2 separate regions of the Homo sapiens genome follow, and region 1 is linked to region 2. Evidence: fine-mapped expression QTL. Tissue or cell type: whole blood. Region 2 holds a variant in brackets; the other region holds the start of a gene. All regions are shown on one strand. Distances are from middle to middle.

What was found. PIP is the estimated chance that this variant, and not a neighbour inherited with it, causes the effect.
Region 1: COA8 starts here. The variant in region 2 is fine-mapped to the expression of COA8 in whole blood (TOPMed, PIP 0.98).

The regions. Positions count from the first base shown.
Region 1 is chr14:103,559,305-103,567,404 of GRCh38, reverse strand. It overlaps COA8 (cytochrome c oxidase assembly factor 8), which reads right to left and starts at 4,445. Exons shown (of 5, transcript NM_001370595.2): 1 at 4,281-4,445. The coding sequence starts at 4,403. It overlaps BAG5 (BAG cochaperone 5), which reads left to right and starts at 4,748. Exons shown (of 2, transcript NM_001015048.3): 1 at 4,748-4,789; 2 at 6,213-8,100. The coding sequence starts at 6,241. The coding sequence ends at 7,584. RefSeq lists a silencer at 4,491-5,140 and enhancers at 5,481-5,530, 5,630-6,143.
Region 2 is chr14:103,272,689-103,280,788 of GRCh38, reverse strand. It overlaps the pseudogene RAP2CP1. Among named protein-coding and RNA genes, the nearest start is that of EIF5, 57 kb to the left of the region's middle. The variant A/G (reference allele first, on the strand shown) is at 3,863.

The DNA.
Region 1 (8,100 bases), 290 kb before region 2:
ACAAAAAAAAATTTTTTTTTTTTTTTTTTTTTGAGAAAGAGTCTCGCATTGTTGCCCAGGCTGGAGTGCAGTGGCGCGATCTTGGCTCACTGCAGCCTCCGCCTACCAGGTTCAAGCAATTCTCCTGCCTCAGCCTCCCGAGTAGCTGGGATTACAGGCATGCGCCACCACGCCCGGCTAATTTTTGTATTTTCAGTAGAGACGGTGTTTCACCACGTTGGCCAGGCTGGTCTTGAATTCCTGACCTCAGATGATCCACCTGCCTCGGCCTTCCAACGTGCTGAGATTACAGGCACGAGCCACCGCGCCCTGCCAAAAAAATTTTAAAAATCAGCCAGGTGCGGTGGCACATGCCTGTAGCCCCAGCTACTAAAGAGGCTGAGGCAGGAAGATTACTTGAGCCAGTGAGGTTGAGGCTGTGGTGAGCTATGTTTGTGCCACTGCACTCCAGCCTGGGCAACAGAGCAAGACCCTATGTCCAAAAAAGGGAAAAATATGGTTATTTGTGGACTTGTTCCAACCCTCCTCCTCTCAGAAGTTAGGTGCCCAACAGGCAGGCCCAGGGTGGTGCTCCCTTGCATCCTCAGGAGACCCTGCCTGGAGCTGCAAACAATAAACTTCTGATAGATTCCAAAGATGGACATGGTGGATTCAGCCATTCTCCATAAGCATCAACCTGCCTGCCCCTGCACCACCATGCAAAGGCCAAGCACTGCTCTAGGCACCAGGGAGGCATGTGTTAGCATGCAGAGCTCCTGCCTGGAGAGCCATCTGTGCATGTGTGAAAAGAGGCACACACATTCATTTCTGTATCTCTGGCACCTCATGAAGAACCTGTGCAGGAAATGCCAACCACCCTGAGACAAATGTTTCCATTGGTGTTTTAAGCACCACAATACAGGACACGGTTTTCAAAAATACATGAGACTTTATCAGATGTCTTGTTTAAATCAATATGCAATGGCTCACTCTTTTTTTTCTTTTTGAGAATGAGTCTTGGTCCATCGCCCAGGCTGGAGTGCAATGGCGCGATCTCGGCTCACTGCAACCTCTGCCTCCTGGGTTCAAGCGATTCTCCCGCCTCAGCCTCCCAACTAGCTGGGATTACAGGTACCACCATCATGCCCGGCTAATTTTTGTATTTTTGTAGAGACAGGATTTCACCATGTTGGCCGGGCTGGTCTTGAACTCCTGACCTCAGGTGATCTGCCTGCCTCAGTCTCCCAAAGTGCTGGCAAGGTGTGAGCCACCATGCCTGGCCGGATCACTCTTATTTACCAGTTTAGTAACTCTAACCAGAAAGAAGATGGGGTTAAACTCTAACCAAAAAGAAGATGGGGTTAAAATGGCTTGTTCTTATGAAAACTCAGGTTCAAATGACTTGTAGGTTCTACCAGTCACAGAAAAATTCAAACCTTAGTAAACAATCCACGGAAACAGGAAAAGAAGGCATACCCTACAGCTCATTTTTGAAGCTAAAAGTGACTTTGGGCCAGGCACAGTGGCTCATACCTGTAATCCCAGCACTTTGGGAGGCTGAGGTGAGCAGATCACCTGAGGTCAGGAGTTCAAGACCACCCTGGCCAACATGGTGAAACCCGTCTCTACAAAAAATACAAAAATTAGCCGGGCATGGTGGTAGGCACCTGTAATCCCAGCTACTCAGGAGGCTGAGGCAGGAGAATTGCTTGAACCCGGGCGGTGGAGGTTGCAGTGAGCTGAGATCACGCCACTGCACTCCAGCCTGGGTGACAGAGCAAGACTCCATCTCAAAAAAAAAAAAAAATTAAAAAAAAAGGTGGGGAGGTGATGGAGGCAGAACCTATGGATTAAAAAGAACTAAAAGGGAGTATCTCTGAACCTATTCTGGTTCAGGAACTTCCGGATTAAAGAAAAAAAAAGAACTAAAAGAGTCAGACTAATTCTTACGTGCAAACAAGTTTAGGAACCAATGATGCAAACTACATAGGTAAGACATAAGCAGGCATGAAGTGGCTAGGGAACAGAATTTAAAAGTCTTAATTTTTTTTTCTTTACCAAAAGCAGTTATATTTCTGAAAAGCTGAGTTTTAAAGATGGATTTGGAAGGAAGAATGGTGCCTGACTCTTAAGTTCTATAATATTTTTCAATTAAAAGCTGGTGCTGGCTGGGCATGGTGGCTCACACTTATAATCTCAGCACTTTGGGAGGCCAAGGCGGGTGGATCACCTGAAGTCAGGAGTTCGAGACCTGCCTGGCCAGCATAGTGAAACCCCATCTCTACTAAAAAAAGAAAAAAAAATTAACCAGGCGTGGCAGCATGCGCCTGTGATCCCAGCTATACTCAGGAGGCTGCGGCAGGAGAATTGCTTGAACCCAGTAGGCAAAGGTTGCAGTGAGCCGAGACTGCGCCATTGCACTCCAGCCTGGGCAACAGAGCAAAAACTCCATCTCGAAAAAAGAAAAAACGAACAAGGCAGAGAGGTCTCTCATCTTGAGAACAGACCCATGGTAAGATTTATTTTACTTTAACAAGAAGTCTAAGGCTGAGAGTGGTGGCTCACACTTGTAATCCTAGCACTTTGGGAGGCCCAGGCAGGCGCATCACTTGAGGTCAGGAGTTTGAAACCAGCCTGGCCAACAGGTGAAACCCTGTCTCTACTAAAAATACAAAAAAATTAGCCGGGCATGGTGGTGGGCCCCTGTAGTCCCAGCTACTCGGAAGGCTGAGGCACGAGAATCGCTTGAGCCCGGGAGGCAGAGGTTGCAGTGAGCTGAGATCACGCCACTGTACTCCCACCTGGGCGACAGAGGGAGACTCCAACTCAAAAAAAAAAAAAAAAAAAAAAAAAAGAAGTGTATATGACAATAGAGAAATCCTTATTTGGGTGCTGTTGTTTCTTTCCAGCACAAGTTCACAAAATAAGCTAGGGAAAATCCCCCCCGCCCGGGAAATGTCTTGGTTGATTTCCCGTTTGCTCTCTTAGAGCATTTTCAGACACCTGCTCTATCTTTCTGCCCAAAGATAGAGATGCTGGGTGGGTTTCTATGTTCTAGGGATAGAAGGCAAGGACTTGGTCACTGTAACACAGAACTGAGCTAGCCACTTGGGTGTCTGGTTGGCAAGTTGCCCTGGTAACTCCTTGTTTAAATTGTAAACTAGATAGACCTTCAAAGCTACAATTATGAAAGTGTACTAACAGCCACAGCCCAACAGAAATGAAAATGTACAAGCAAGTACATTTGCAATTTTTAATTAGCTTTTTTTTTTTTGAGATGAAGTCTCCCTCTGTCGCCAGGCTGGAGTGCAGTGGCGCGATCTCGACTCACAGCAACCTCCGTCTCCCGGGTTCAAGCGATTTTCCTGCCTCATCCTCCCGAGTAGCTGGGTCTACAGGCGCGCGCCACTATGCCCAGCTAATTTCTGTATTTTTAGCAGAGACGTTTCACCATGTTGGGCAGGATGGTCTCACCTCTTGATTTCGTGATCCGCTTGCCTCGGCCTCCCAAAGTGCTGGGATTACAAGCGTGAGCCACGGAGCCCGTCCAATTTTTAATTAACACTTTTTTAATACTTCTTTAATTATTGTTTAAACCAAGTTTTCCAGCCTCCTTCATTAGCCTGTTTGGTATTTGCATGCTTTGCTTGAATATTTTATCTCCAGCCCATTCCACACCGTTAGTCAACATTTTCATCTGACAGACGGAATCAAGGCCTAGGCCTCCCTTAAACAAAACATCCCTCCCAAAAGTACCACTTATAAAAATTGCTTGCCACAGACATTCTTGCTACAGACATTCTTTGCGGATCTTTGGCCAGTAACATGCATATACCCACACATAGTTTGCAAATAACAACTATTCAACGTGAAGTGCTACAAAAGTACGATGATAAAGTGCTCGCCGCTTGAAGAAAAGCACTAATAATTGTAACAAAGCCAAAACACACACACACACAACGAAAAAAAACGCACGGTAAGCCAAGAGCTCTTTAAAAATAAAAAATAATCATTCTCGGGAACAAATAAGGTAGGTACAAACTTGCCAGGTGACTCTGTTACGCTTAAAGGTTCTGGCTGTCAACAGTCCCCGGCGTGGTGGCGGCGGCACCCTCAGTCCCATCCGACTGAGGGCGTTGATGCGGGAGCCTCGGGGCTGCGGGACTGTTCGGGATAGGACGCGAGAGCACCTGGACAAAGGCCTGAGGCGGCTGTGCAGAACAGGGAGTGGCCCCGAGGCCCGGGTTTGTCTTCCCTTCCGGTCACCCCTCCCGGCCCAATGTCCCCAGGCCCCTGCTTACCCCGCTGGGCGCCGTATCCCTGCGCTCGGCGCCGCGCTCCGGAGCGAGTTGACAGCCGCGGCAGGCGAAGGCGCGGCAGAGAGGGGGGAGAAAGGTCTTCTTCCCCGCCCGCAAGACCACCATGGCCCCACGCCCCCTGGCTCCCGCGGCGCACGGCAGCATTGCGACGGCGCGAGGGGCCGCTTTACGGCAGGGTCGCGAAGCCCGAGGAAGCGCGGCGGCGCGGCCGACCGTGCGCTTTCCCAGCGGTGCGACGGGGTGAGGGGGCGGCGGGCGGCGCGGGCTGACCCGGGCGGCCGCTCCTTGGTCGCGGTCACTCCAGGCTGCCTCGCTGCGCCGCTGGCGGTGGGCGTGGCGCTGCCGGCGGCTAGGCGCGGACGCCGGAGGAGGTGTCCCCGGGTTTAGGGGTGTTCGGCCAGGGGCGGGGCTGCCGGGCCCGGGCGACTGCCGGAGCTGCGGAAGTCGTGGAAGCGTCGGCGACGCATCGCGCGATGGCGCGGGCGGGACAGGTGAGCGAAGCGCGGCTTGTAGCCTTTTCCCTCTCTCGGGGGGACGAGTGGGGCACCACCTCCGCGCGGGGCTCCCCGCTGGGCCACCCCTTCGCCAGCGCCCAGCCCCGTGCGGCCTGTCGGATCAGGCAGGGCAGAGTCGGTCTCGGCGCTGTCCCCGCCCCTGGGGTCGGAAGCGACCGGGGCTGGCCGGGCCTGGTCTCTGGTGTCTCCGGCCGGGCCTCGGTTCCCCTCCTCCCCCGGCTTCCCCCGGCCGGGCCGAGCTCCCCTCGCGCGCCCATTGTGAGGTCACGTCCTGCAGGCGCGCCCTGGCACCCGGGCCAAGACGCCCGGAGCGGCTGCTGCAGCCAGTAGCGGCCCCTTCACCGGCTGCCCCGCTCAGACCTAGTCGGGAGGGGTGCGAGGCATGCAGCTGGGGGCCCAGCTCCGGTGCCGCACCCCGTAAAGGGCTGATCTTCCACCTCGCCACCTCAGCCACGGGACGCCAAGACCGCATCCAATTCAGACTTCTTTTGGGTAAAGGGCCAAGAGGGAAGGGCGAGGCGGGGAGGAAGCAGCTCGGGCCGCCTTCCCTCCGTGGCCTCCAGGACATCCGCCGGGGATAGATTATGCGTTTCCATTGGTTACCCACCTTGAGCGAGCCGTTTGATAGAAACCAAGAGCTTGAAACGTGCATTAGGCCATTGTGGACTCCCAGTGGGAGGCGAGTGAATGAATTATTCATAGTTACCACGTTTTCGCGGGTTGTTTTTTTTTGAGAGAGTGGAGCATGTTGGGGGCTGAGGAGGTGTTGGGCCTCGAAAGCCCAAGGTGGTGCCCTTCAGCGCTGTCCCGGTCGCTCTTCTTTACCTGTGGGGTTTTAATCTCTTCAGGGAGACTTCTGTGAGGGAAGATGTGTGAGGAGCTAAAAGGGTGGGGAGGGGAAGTGCACAAAGGGATGGAGAGAAACGAAGAAGCGGGGACCTTGGGGATGTCTGAGAGCCACTGGTTTTTGTTCTGGTTCTTTCTTTTGCTTAGAGTTTCTGGAAACTAGGCATAGCTGTGTGGCGGGGCGGGGTACTGTTAGTGTTCGGAAGGTTACAAGAGCTACTGTTTCACCTTTCATAAAGGTGCCCTGCTGGTTCCAAATAGTTTGTGTCGCGTACGGTGACTCACACCTTAATCCCAGCACTTTGGGAGGCGGAGGCGGGCGGATCGTCTGAGACCAGCCTGGGCAATATAGTGAGACCTGTCTCTACTAAAAATAACATTAGCTGGGCGTAGTGGTGTACGACTGTAGACCCAGCTACTGGGGAGGCTGAGGTGGGATGACTGCTCAGAAGTATACCTTTTTAAAATGAGAATTTTAGAATGACTTAATATACCATTAGTGTTCTGCAGAAGCCTTGTGCTGTAGTAAGTTATCATTCTTGTCGTCTTTTAGTGCTTGTGAAACTGAACACAACAAAAGTATGGATATGGGAAACCAACATCCTTCTATTAGTAGGCTTCAGGAAATCCAAAAGGAAGTAAAAAGTGTAGAACAGCAAGTTATCGGCTTCAGTGGTCTGTCAGATGACAAGAATTACAAGAAACTGGAGAGGATTCTAACAAAACAGCTTTTTGAAATAGACTCTGTAGATACTGAAGGAAAAGGAGATATTCAGCAAGCTAGGAAGCGGGCAGCACAGGAGACAGAACGTCTTCTCAAAGAGTTGGAGCAGAATGCAAACCACCCACACCGGATTGAAATACAGAACATTTTTGAGGAAGCCCAGTCCCTCGTGAGAGAGAAAATTGTGCCATTTTATAATGGAGGCAACTGCGTAACTGATGAGTTTGAAGAAGGCATCCAAGATATCATTCTGAGGCTGACACATGTTAAAACTGGAGGAAAAATCTCCTTGCGGAAAGCAAGGTATCACACTTTAACCAAAATCTGTGCGGTGCAAGAGATAATCGAAGACTGCATGAAAAAGCAGCCTTCCCTGCCGCTTTCCGAGGATGCACATCCTTCCGTTGCCAAAATCAACTTCGTGATGTGTGAGGTGAACAAGGCCCGAGGGGTCCTGATTGCACTTCTGATGGGTGTGAACAACAATGAGACCTGCAGGCACTTATCCTGTGTGCTCTCGGGGCTGATCGCTGACCTGGATGCTCTAGATGTGTGCGGCCGGACAGAAATCAGAAATTATCGGAGGGAGGTAGTAGAAGATATCAACAAATTATTGAAATATCTGGATTTGGAAGAGGAAGCAGACACAACTAAAGCATTTGACCTGAGACAGAATCATTCCATTTTAAAAATAGAAAAGGTCCTCAAGAGAATGAGAGAAATAAAAAATGAACTTCTCCAAGCACAAAACCCTTCTGAATTGTACCTGAGCTCCAAAACAGAATTGCAGGGTTTAATTGGACAGTTGGATGAGGTAAGTCTTGAAAAAAACCCCTGCATCCGGGAAGCCAGGAGAAGAGCAGTGATCGAGGTGCAAACTCTGATCACATATATTGACTTGAAGGAGGCCCTTGAGAAAAGAAAGCTGTTTGCTTGTGAGGAGCACCCATCCCATAAAGCCGTCTGGAACGTCCTTGGAAACTTGTCTGAGATCCAGGGAGAAGTTCTTTCATTTGATGGAAATCGAACCGATAAGAACTACATCCGGCTGGAAGAGCTGCTCACCAAGCAGCTGCTAGCCCTGGATGCTGTTGATCCGCAGGGAGAAGAGAAGTGTAAGGCTGCCAGGAAACAAGCTGTGAGGCTTGCGCAGAATATTCTCAGCTATCTCGACCTGAAATCTGATGAATGGGAGTACTGAAATACCAGAGATCTCACTTTTGATACTGTTTTGCACTTCATATGTGCTTCTATGTATAGAGAGCTTTCAGTTCATTGATTTATACGTGCATATTTCAGTCTCAGTATTTATGATTGAAGCAAATTCTATTCAGTATCTGCTGCTTTTGATGTTGCAAGACAAATATCATTACAGCACGTTAACTTTTCCATTCGGATCATTATCTGTATGATGTGGTGTGGTTTGTTTGGTTTGTCCTTTTTTTTGCGTTTTTAATCAGAAAACAAAATAGAGGCAGCTTTTGTAGATTTTAAATGGGTTGTGCAAGCATTAAAATGCAGGTCTTTCAGAATCTAGAACTAGGCATAACCTTACATAATACTAGGAAAATTATGAGAAAGGGGAAATTTTTGGTTAAATAAGAGTAAGGTTCAAACACAAGCAGTACATGTTCTGTTTCATTATGCTCGATAGAAGGCTTTTTTTTCACTTATAAGGCCTGATTGGTCCTACCCAGCTTAACGGGGTGGGGTTTTT
Region 2 (8,100 bases):
CGCTGGGCTCACTTTAGGTATAAAATTAATTTGCCAGCGACACATATCCAATTGCAAGGTTGTGCTAAGTAGGTCGTAACTATATTTAGGACCACACAGAAAGGAAAAAGTGATTGCTCAATTCATCACTGAAAATGAGATGGAAACTTCATGGAACTAAGATCTAAACTTCGGCGAAGTGCTCCAAATCCAAACTGTAATTCTCAGAACCAGGTAGTTCAAAAAAACATACCACAAATTGCATTTGAAGAAAGCACATTCTGCCCATTCAGGCTTAAAGCAGTAAGGCATCTTTTAAAGAAGAAAAACTGCCAACAGAATGAATCACTGTTGTTAGTTAAAATACAGAAGTAGTCGTTTCCGTTTCCATTTACTATCCTGTATATCGCTGCTTTAAGATGCACCCAATAGGCCAGGCACCGTGGCTCACGCCTGTAATCCCAGCACTTCGGGAGGCCGAGGCAGGCGGATCACGAGGTCAAGAGATCGAGACCATCTTGGCCAACATGGTGAAACCCCGTCTCTACTAAAAATACAAAAATTAGCCGGGCGTGGTGGCACATGCCTGTAGTCCCACCTACTTGGGAGGCTGAGGCAGGATAATCGCTTGAACCGGGGAGGCGGAGGTTGCAGTGAGCTGAGATCACCGAGATCGCCACTGAACTCCAGCCTGGCGACAGTCTCAAAAAAATAAAAAATGCACCGAATAGTTCATCCTGGGCTCTCACGTTTAGTAATTACGAGTGCAGAATCTGCATAAGGAAATCGATTAAATACTTAAGACGTTAGCCCTTGCCTTTTACCTATTATAGTAACTTGGAAAGCTGCGAAGGTAAAGAACAGCTTTCAGGCCTCGGGCGCTGGGGCCGCGCTTCTGCTCTGCACCCGTGGGTCTTGGGGAACAAGGCCTGGGCACCGGAGGGACTCGAGGCAGCGCGCGGGTTAGAAGCGTCCCGGCAGGCTCAGTTCCCGACGCGGCCCCAGTCCTAGCCTCCCTCCCCGCGCTTCGAGGCTGCCACCAGGGCCATCTTTTTCTGGATGGAGTCCAGGGGACAACAGAAAACTTCCCAACACTCCACCTCCTCCTCGGGCGGGACCAAGGCCTCCGTCTCGCGCACCGCCTGCATGAACACCCGGTCCACCATCCGCTGGCTCTTGGCCATGACCTCCGGGAACGGGGAGCGCCCCTCGCGGCCCCGCGCCGTCAGCACCTGGCGCCCGTCGTCCGGGTCGGCCTGGGTGCCCACCAGCACCCGCGGGACGGCCCCGGGTTCCCACGGCCGGCGCAGGCGCTTGCTCGGCGGCCTCACGGCCCGGAACGAGGCCTCGCTGCACACGCCCGGGAGCACCGCGGAGCCGTCGCCGTGGCGGATGTCCAGGTCCTGGAGCGTGACCAGGTGCTCGGCGCCCGCCGCGTCCACGACCTCCAGCAACGCGGGCGCCGCGTTCGCCTCGATCTCCTCGCGGAGCCGCTCCTCCGCCCACGCCGCGCACTGCTCGGGGAGCGGCCGCACGCGAACTGCGTGTCCAGCGTGGTCCTGCCCACTCCACGCTCCCCAGCAGCACACCCCGGCAGCCCTGGCGGGGCGCGGGACCAGCCCGCAGGGTCCGGGACGCGGCGGGGAGGGGAGGGGAGGGAGGAAGGGTCCTGGGAGGGCGAGGACCCGCGCGGGGGTCTGGCCTGGGGCGGGTCGGGAGGGGAGGGGAGGAAAACGGGGGGCGGGGGAGGGCGGGAGGAAGGGGCCTGGGAGGGCGGACGCGCATCCCACGGAGCCGGGGCGGAGGAGGCGGTCGCGCCGCGGCGACCCCCGCCAGCCTTGGCCCGGACCCGCGCCCTCCTGCTCTCCCTGGTTCCCTGCCCGCACAGTGCCCGCCAGGTGCCTGCCGGGTCCGACCAGATCTAATCTGGAACCAGCTCCAGTGAGAAAGAAAAACAAGTTGGCCGGGCGCGGTGGCTCAGGCCTGTCAATCCCAGCACTTTGGGAGGCCGAGGCGGGCGGATCACGAGGTCAGGAGATCGAGACCATCCTGGCTAACACGGTGAAACCCCGTCTCCACTAAAAATACAAAAAATAGCCGGGCGTGGTGGCGGGCGCCTGTAGTCCCAGCTACTCGCGAGGCTGAGGCAGGAGAATGGCGGGAACCCGGGAGGCGGAGCTTGCAGTGAGCTGAGATCGCGCCACTGCACTCCAGCCTGGGCGACAGAGCGAGACTCCGTCTCAAAAGAAAAAAAAAAAAAAAGAAAAAAAGGAAAAACAAGCATACATCAAATCTGTGAGAAGCAGCTAAAGCCATTTTTAGGGGCAAATTTCAGTTTCACATTTTTTATAATGGAAAAGAAGAGGAGCCAAAAAAATCAGTGAGATAAATATTCATCTCGAGAAGTCGAAAGGAGGCAGGGTGAGATGGCTCACACCTGTAATCCCAACACTTGGGGAGGCTGAAGTGGGTAGATCGTTTGAGCCCAGGGAGTTCGAGACCAGCCCTGGCAACATAGTGAGACCACGTCTATGTTAGTCTGTTCTCACGCTACTATGAAGAAATACCCGAGACTGCGTAATTTATAAAGGAAAAAGGTTTAACTGACTCACAGTTCCGCAGGGCTGGGCAGGCCTCAGGAAACTTACGATCATGGTGGAAGGAGAAGCAAACAAGTCCTTCTTCACATGGGGGCAGGAAGAAGTGCTGAGCAAAAGGGGGGGAAACCCCTTATAAAAGCATCAGCTCTTGTGAGAACTCATTGACTATCCTGAGAACAGCAGCATGGAGGTAACCGCCCCCATGATTCAATTACCTCCCACTGGGTCCCTCCCATGACACACAGGGATCATGGGAACTACAATTCAAGATGAGATTTGGGTGGGGACACGGCCAAACCACACCACCATCTCTACAAAAAATACAAAATTAGTTGGGCATGGTGGTGCATGCCTGTGGTCCTAGCTACTCAGGAGGCTGAGGTGGGAGGATCACCTGAGCCCAGGGAGGTCAAGTCAGCAGTGAGCTGTCATTGTGCCACTGTACTCCAGCAGCCTAGACGACAGCCTAGGCTGTCTCGAAAAAAAAAAAAAAAAAAAAAAAGGAAGAAAAATATCCAGTAAATTAATTCCAAATAAAGTAGAAGAAAGTAAATAACAATTAGCTGGACAAGGTGGTATGCATTTGTAGTCCCAGTCCCAGCTACTCTGGAGGCTGGGGTGGGAGGATTTCTTGAGCCCAGGATGTCAAAGCTGCACTGAGCTGAGATTCTGATACTGCACTCCAGCCTGGGCAATGGAGCAAGACCCTGTCTCTAGCAAGAAAAAAAAAAAAAAAAAAAAAGAAAAGAAAAGAAAAAATAAAATAAAGCACAAATTATTTGAAAACAAGAACAGAGAGGATCAACAAAGCCAGATGTTGGGTCTTTGAAAATTTAGATGAAAAGAAAAAACTCCTAAAATATATAACTAATTAAGCTAAAATTAAAGTAACAGATCAGAATAGTTCCATATCTATTAAATACATTGAGTATATAATTAAAAACTTCCCACATGAAAGCTGTAGGTTCCAATGTCTTCTCTGATTAATTGTAACAAACATTTAAGGGAGAAAAAAAGAGTTCATTTTACAAAAAAGAAAAGACCTCTCTCAGAGACTAGAAAAAGAGGGAACTTGTTTTATGAGAGCAGGGTAACCTTGCTATCAATCAGACAAGGACATCATGAAAAAGGAAATTTACAGGCCAGTCTCACATACACTCACACATTCACAGGTGTGAAAATCCTAAATAAAATAAATTCAGTGTTAAATTAAAAAAGATAACACACTACGATTAAGTGGACTTTAACACAGGGATGTAAGATTAACTTAATATGCTAAAAAT[A/G]AATTTAAATGGTCATGTAAAAGAATAGAAAAGAAAAATCATATGACCATCTGAGTAGCTGTGGGAAAAGCATTTGATAAAATTCAACATCCATTCATGACAAAAAGACTGTTAGCCACCTGGGAATAAAAGAAAATGTCCTCAGTCTATTTAAGATAGATACAGGAAGTTTCTAGTAAATATCATACCGTACATAATAAATATTATACACACTTTTGTCAAGTTTCCCACTATCTCCACTTCTACTTAACGCTGCACTGAGGTTTTCAACAATGTGACTAAGGCCAGGAAAAGAAACAAAAGGCATAATACTCTCATTATGTAGCTGATATATGTTCATTGAAAATATAAAAATGTCTAATAATTTTTTCTTTTTACATTTTCTTTTTCTTTCTTCTTTGTTTTTTAATCATCTAACCAGGTGAAAAATCTAGTATTTCTTTTTTTTCTTGAGACAGAGAGTCTTGCTGTGTCACACAGGCTGGAGCACAGTGGCACGATCATAGCTCACTGCAACCTCGACCTCCTTGGCTCAAGTGATCTTCTCGTCTCAGCCTCCAAAGTAGCTGGAACCACAGCCGTGTGCCACCAGGCTTGGCTAACTTAATTTTTTTTTTTTTTTTTTTTTGTAGAGACTGAGTCTCACTATGTTGTTCAGGCCAGTCTGGAACTCCTGGGCTCAAGCAGTCCTCCCACCTTGGCCTCCCAAAGTGCTGAGATTACAGGCATGAGCCACTGTGCCTGGCATAAATTGTTAAAATGAATAAGAGAGTTTAACAAGGTTGCTGGTTACAAAGCCAACACATAAAAATCATTTGCAACTCTATAGACCAACAATACAAAAATAACAAGCAAGAGCAAAATAAAAATGCATTTTAATAGCATCAAAAGACAGCAAATACCTAGGTAACAATCTAACAAAAGATGTACATGACTTCTATGCAGAAAACTATGAGACATTATTGTGATAGATTAAAGAGAAACAGACAAACATGTTCATGGATTAAAAGACTCAATATTTAAAATATGTTAATTTTTCTGAAACCAATTTGCTTCAATGTAATCCTAATCAAATTCTGGCAAGTATTTTGATTGCAGTCCATCAAGCTGATTCTAAAGCTTGTATAGAGATGCATAGGACCAAAGTTAGGCAAAATATTCTTTAAAAAGAATAATAAGGTGGGAAGATTTTGGTCCACCAGAGGCATCAAGATTTACAATAAAGTTATAAGATTTACAATAAAGCGACAGCAAATAGTGTAGAAAGACAGACAAATAGAACAGAGAGGGCACTGCCTAATGATGGTAGGGGAAGAATGGTCCTTTCAACAAATGTAATAGGATGGTTGATCAACAGATGGTGGACACAAAGAAAACTTAATATACAAAAACAAAATCCAGATATATGGTAGCTCTAGCTGCAAAAGGCAAAGCAACAAGGGTTAGAGAAGATAACATAACAGAAGATTTTCATGAACTCTGGGAAGAGAAGTGCTTATTACATAGACCATAGCATTGATCATAAAGGAAAGGATAATACATTTGATTATGTTAACACTGAGAGTTTCTCTTAATCAAAAGACACCATTGACAGAGTAAAAAGGCAAACTGCACAGTTGGAGAAGAGATTTGCAGTCCAATATTACTGACAAAGTATTCCTATCCAGAATATAGAAAGAACTACATACCAATAAGAAAAAGACAGCTGAATATAAAAATGGGCAAGAGACCTGAACAGTCACCTCATAAGAATATGTAAAATAAGGTCACATATTTATCAATATAGATATGTATATTTGGAAAATGTTACTACTAGTTACTCCTGGGGGATTGGAAGTGGAGGGTGGAGGTAGGGGGTGGTTTTCAATATTTTTAAAAAACAAGTTGTAAACAGTGATGGTGGTTCTTTTTGATTTTTATTAAAAATTATTTGGGGGGAGGGATAACATTAAATTATATAAAATCTGGTAGGAAAAGGCATTCTGGAAAAAAAAAAAGGCTGGAGAAAAAATGGTGGCTCCCATGATCGACTCAGTAATTTACTTGGTTGTTTGGTTATTCTTTTGTTTGAACATCTCCTACTATGAACTGATTTCAAAACCAGAATATACTGCATTTGTAATTTTAAGAAATAAATGTTATCAAAATATAAAGAAAAGTGCTCTTAAAATACCTTAAAATTCATGCAAGCTGAACAAACTAGACTGTCTGAGATTGACTTCTTGAAGCCAAAAGGCGAGACCACCCGAAGAGGGAGGCGCTGGGCTTCGCCTGAAGGGACAGGAGTCTCCTATGCCGGTCACCTGGGGACCAGGGCTTGATGGGAAGAGGGCACGAGTGGGGGGAGGGGCTCCGGCTGCAGGAGAATCCCCGCGGGAGCGTGGGAGGGGCCAGCTGGGCCAGGGCCGCCGCGTGTTCGGAATGAGTCTGATTCTGGCCGCAGGTCAAGCCGCGTTCTCCAAGCCACGATCTGTACCACCGATTCCCTTCAAACTAACTGCGACCGGGGCCCCTCGGGGCGTCGTCGGGCACGCGGTGTGAGGCCTGCGCCTGTGCGCGTGGGGTGGCGGGGGACCCGCGGCTGACACAGCCTTTGGCCTGGAGTCCTAAACGAGGGCCTGGAGTTCCTCCTGTGTGAAGACAGAGGCCTGGTTTCCACCTCTACCGCCTCCATAGCTACCAGGCGCCCACGGCCGCTGGAGGGTGCCTGCCGGGGCTGCTGCGGGGCTGCTGCGGGGCTGCTGGAGGGCCCAGCCCCTGGGGCCTCGGGGTCGTTCGGGTCCTGACGCTGCAGGACCAGCTGCGCGCAGAGGCCAGGAGACCCCGGTGCACTCGGCCGAGTTCTGCGCGCGGCGGGGACCGCGGAGGCACCAGCGACCTCTCCTGCCCGTTTGGACCCAGGGCTAGGGTCGGAGTGACACTATGGGTGGGGAGGCGGAGGCGGGGAGACTGAGGCGGGGAGAGGATTTTCGGCGCGGGGAGGGGTCGCGTGCGCGCCTGGGGACGCGGCGGTCCCCTAGGGTCTGCCCTCTTCTGCCGCGTCCTGGGCTCACTCGCCCAGCGGGAAGCGTCTCCTTTCTCCAACCCACCTGATCATCTTTCTCTCAACCCCCAGCTCCTGACCCCCGCGAGTTGGTCCCAGGGCCCGCGACAAGGCCTAGGCACCGGGATTCCGGGCGACATGGATCTTGGGGCCTCGAGCCTCCAAGCACCCAGGCCCTAGGAGGGCCGCGGGAAGGGGCGCAGCTGGGTCCCCGCCAGGGGTGCGGCAGAGGCGTCCGCTGGGAACCCGCCCCACGTAGGAAGCCTCGGAGTCCCAGATCCGCCCCGCTCAACCCAGGCTGGGGGTCTCCTCCGCCCGGCCCAGTCTCTGCAGCCCGCGCGTCGCGTTTGCTTTTTCGCGCACCGGAAGGGAGGCGCCCCCGCCACGACCCCAAGCCTCTGCCAAGTATCCGCCGGGGCCCTGCGCCCGCCCACGACCTCAAGAGCTCTGCGCCCCGGAGCGGGCGCGTCCTTCTGGACCACCCAGGCTTGGCGAGGGCATCGGCTGCTTGGAGGCCTCCGCGGATCGGGCGGGGGCGCGGCGCGGGGCTCTGGAGGTCATGGACGAGGGCGAGGCCGCGGGGGACCCGGTGTGCGCGCAGGTACGCGGAAGCTGGAAGCGGCGGGACGTCCTGTGTCACCGCTGGAGCCCAGGTGGAGGACAGGCCCCACTTGCCTTGCCTTGCCTCGCCTTGCCCCGCCTTGCGCCGCCTTGCCTTTTCCTTGCCTTTTCCTTGCCTTTCCTTTCCTTCTTTCCTTTTTTTTTTTTTTTTTTTTTTTTTTTTTTTTTTTTTTTTTTTTTTTTTGAGACAGAGTCTCGCTCTGTCGCCCGGGCTGGAGTGCAGTGGCGCGATCTCAGCTCACTGCAAGCTCCGCCTCCCGGGTTCACGCCATTCTCCCGCCTCAGCCTCGCGAGTAGCTGGGACTACAGGCGCCCGCCACCACACCTGGCTATTTTGTTTTTGTATTTTTAGTAGAGACGGGGTTTCACCATGTTAGCCAGGATGGTCTCGATCTCCTGACCTTGTGATCTGCCTGCCTCGGCCTCCCAAAGTGCTGGGATTACAGGCGTGAGCCACCGCGCCCGGCCAAAAATTGCTTTTCTTAATCAGTGTCCGTCCTTGTATTTTTTAAACTGAAGCTAAGCGTTACTCACGTACATAGTGCCGTATAAGATGTAACCGAAAATGCGTACA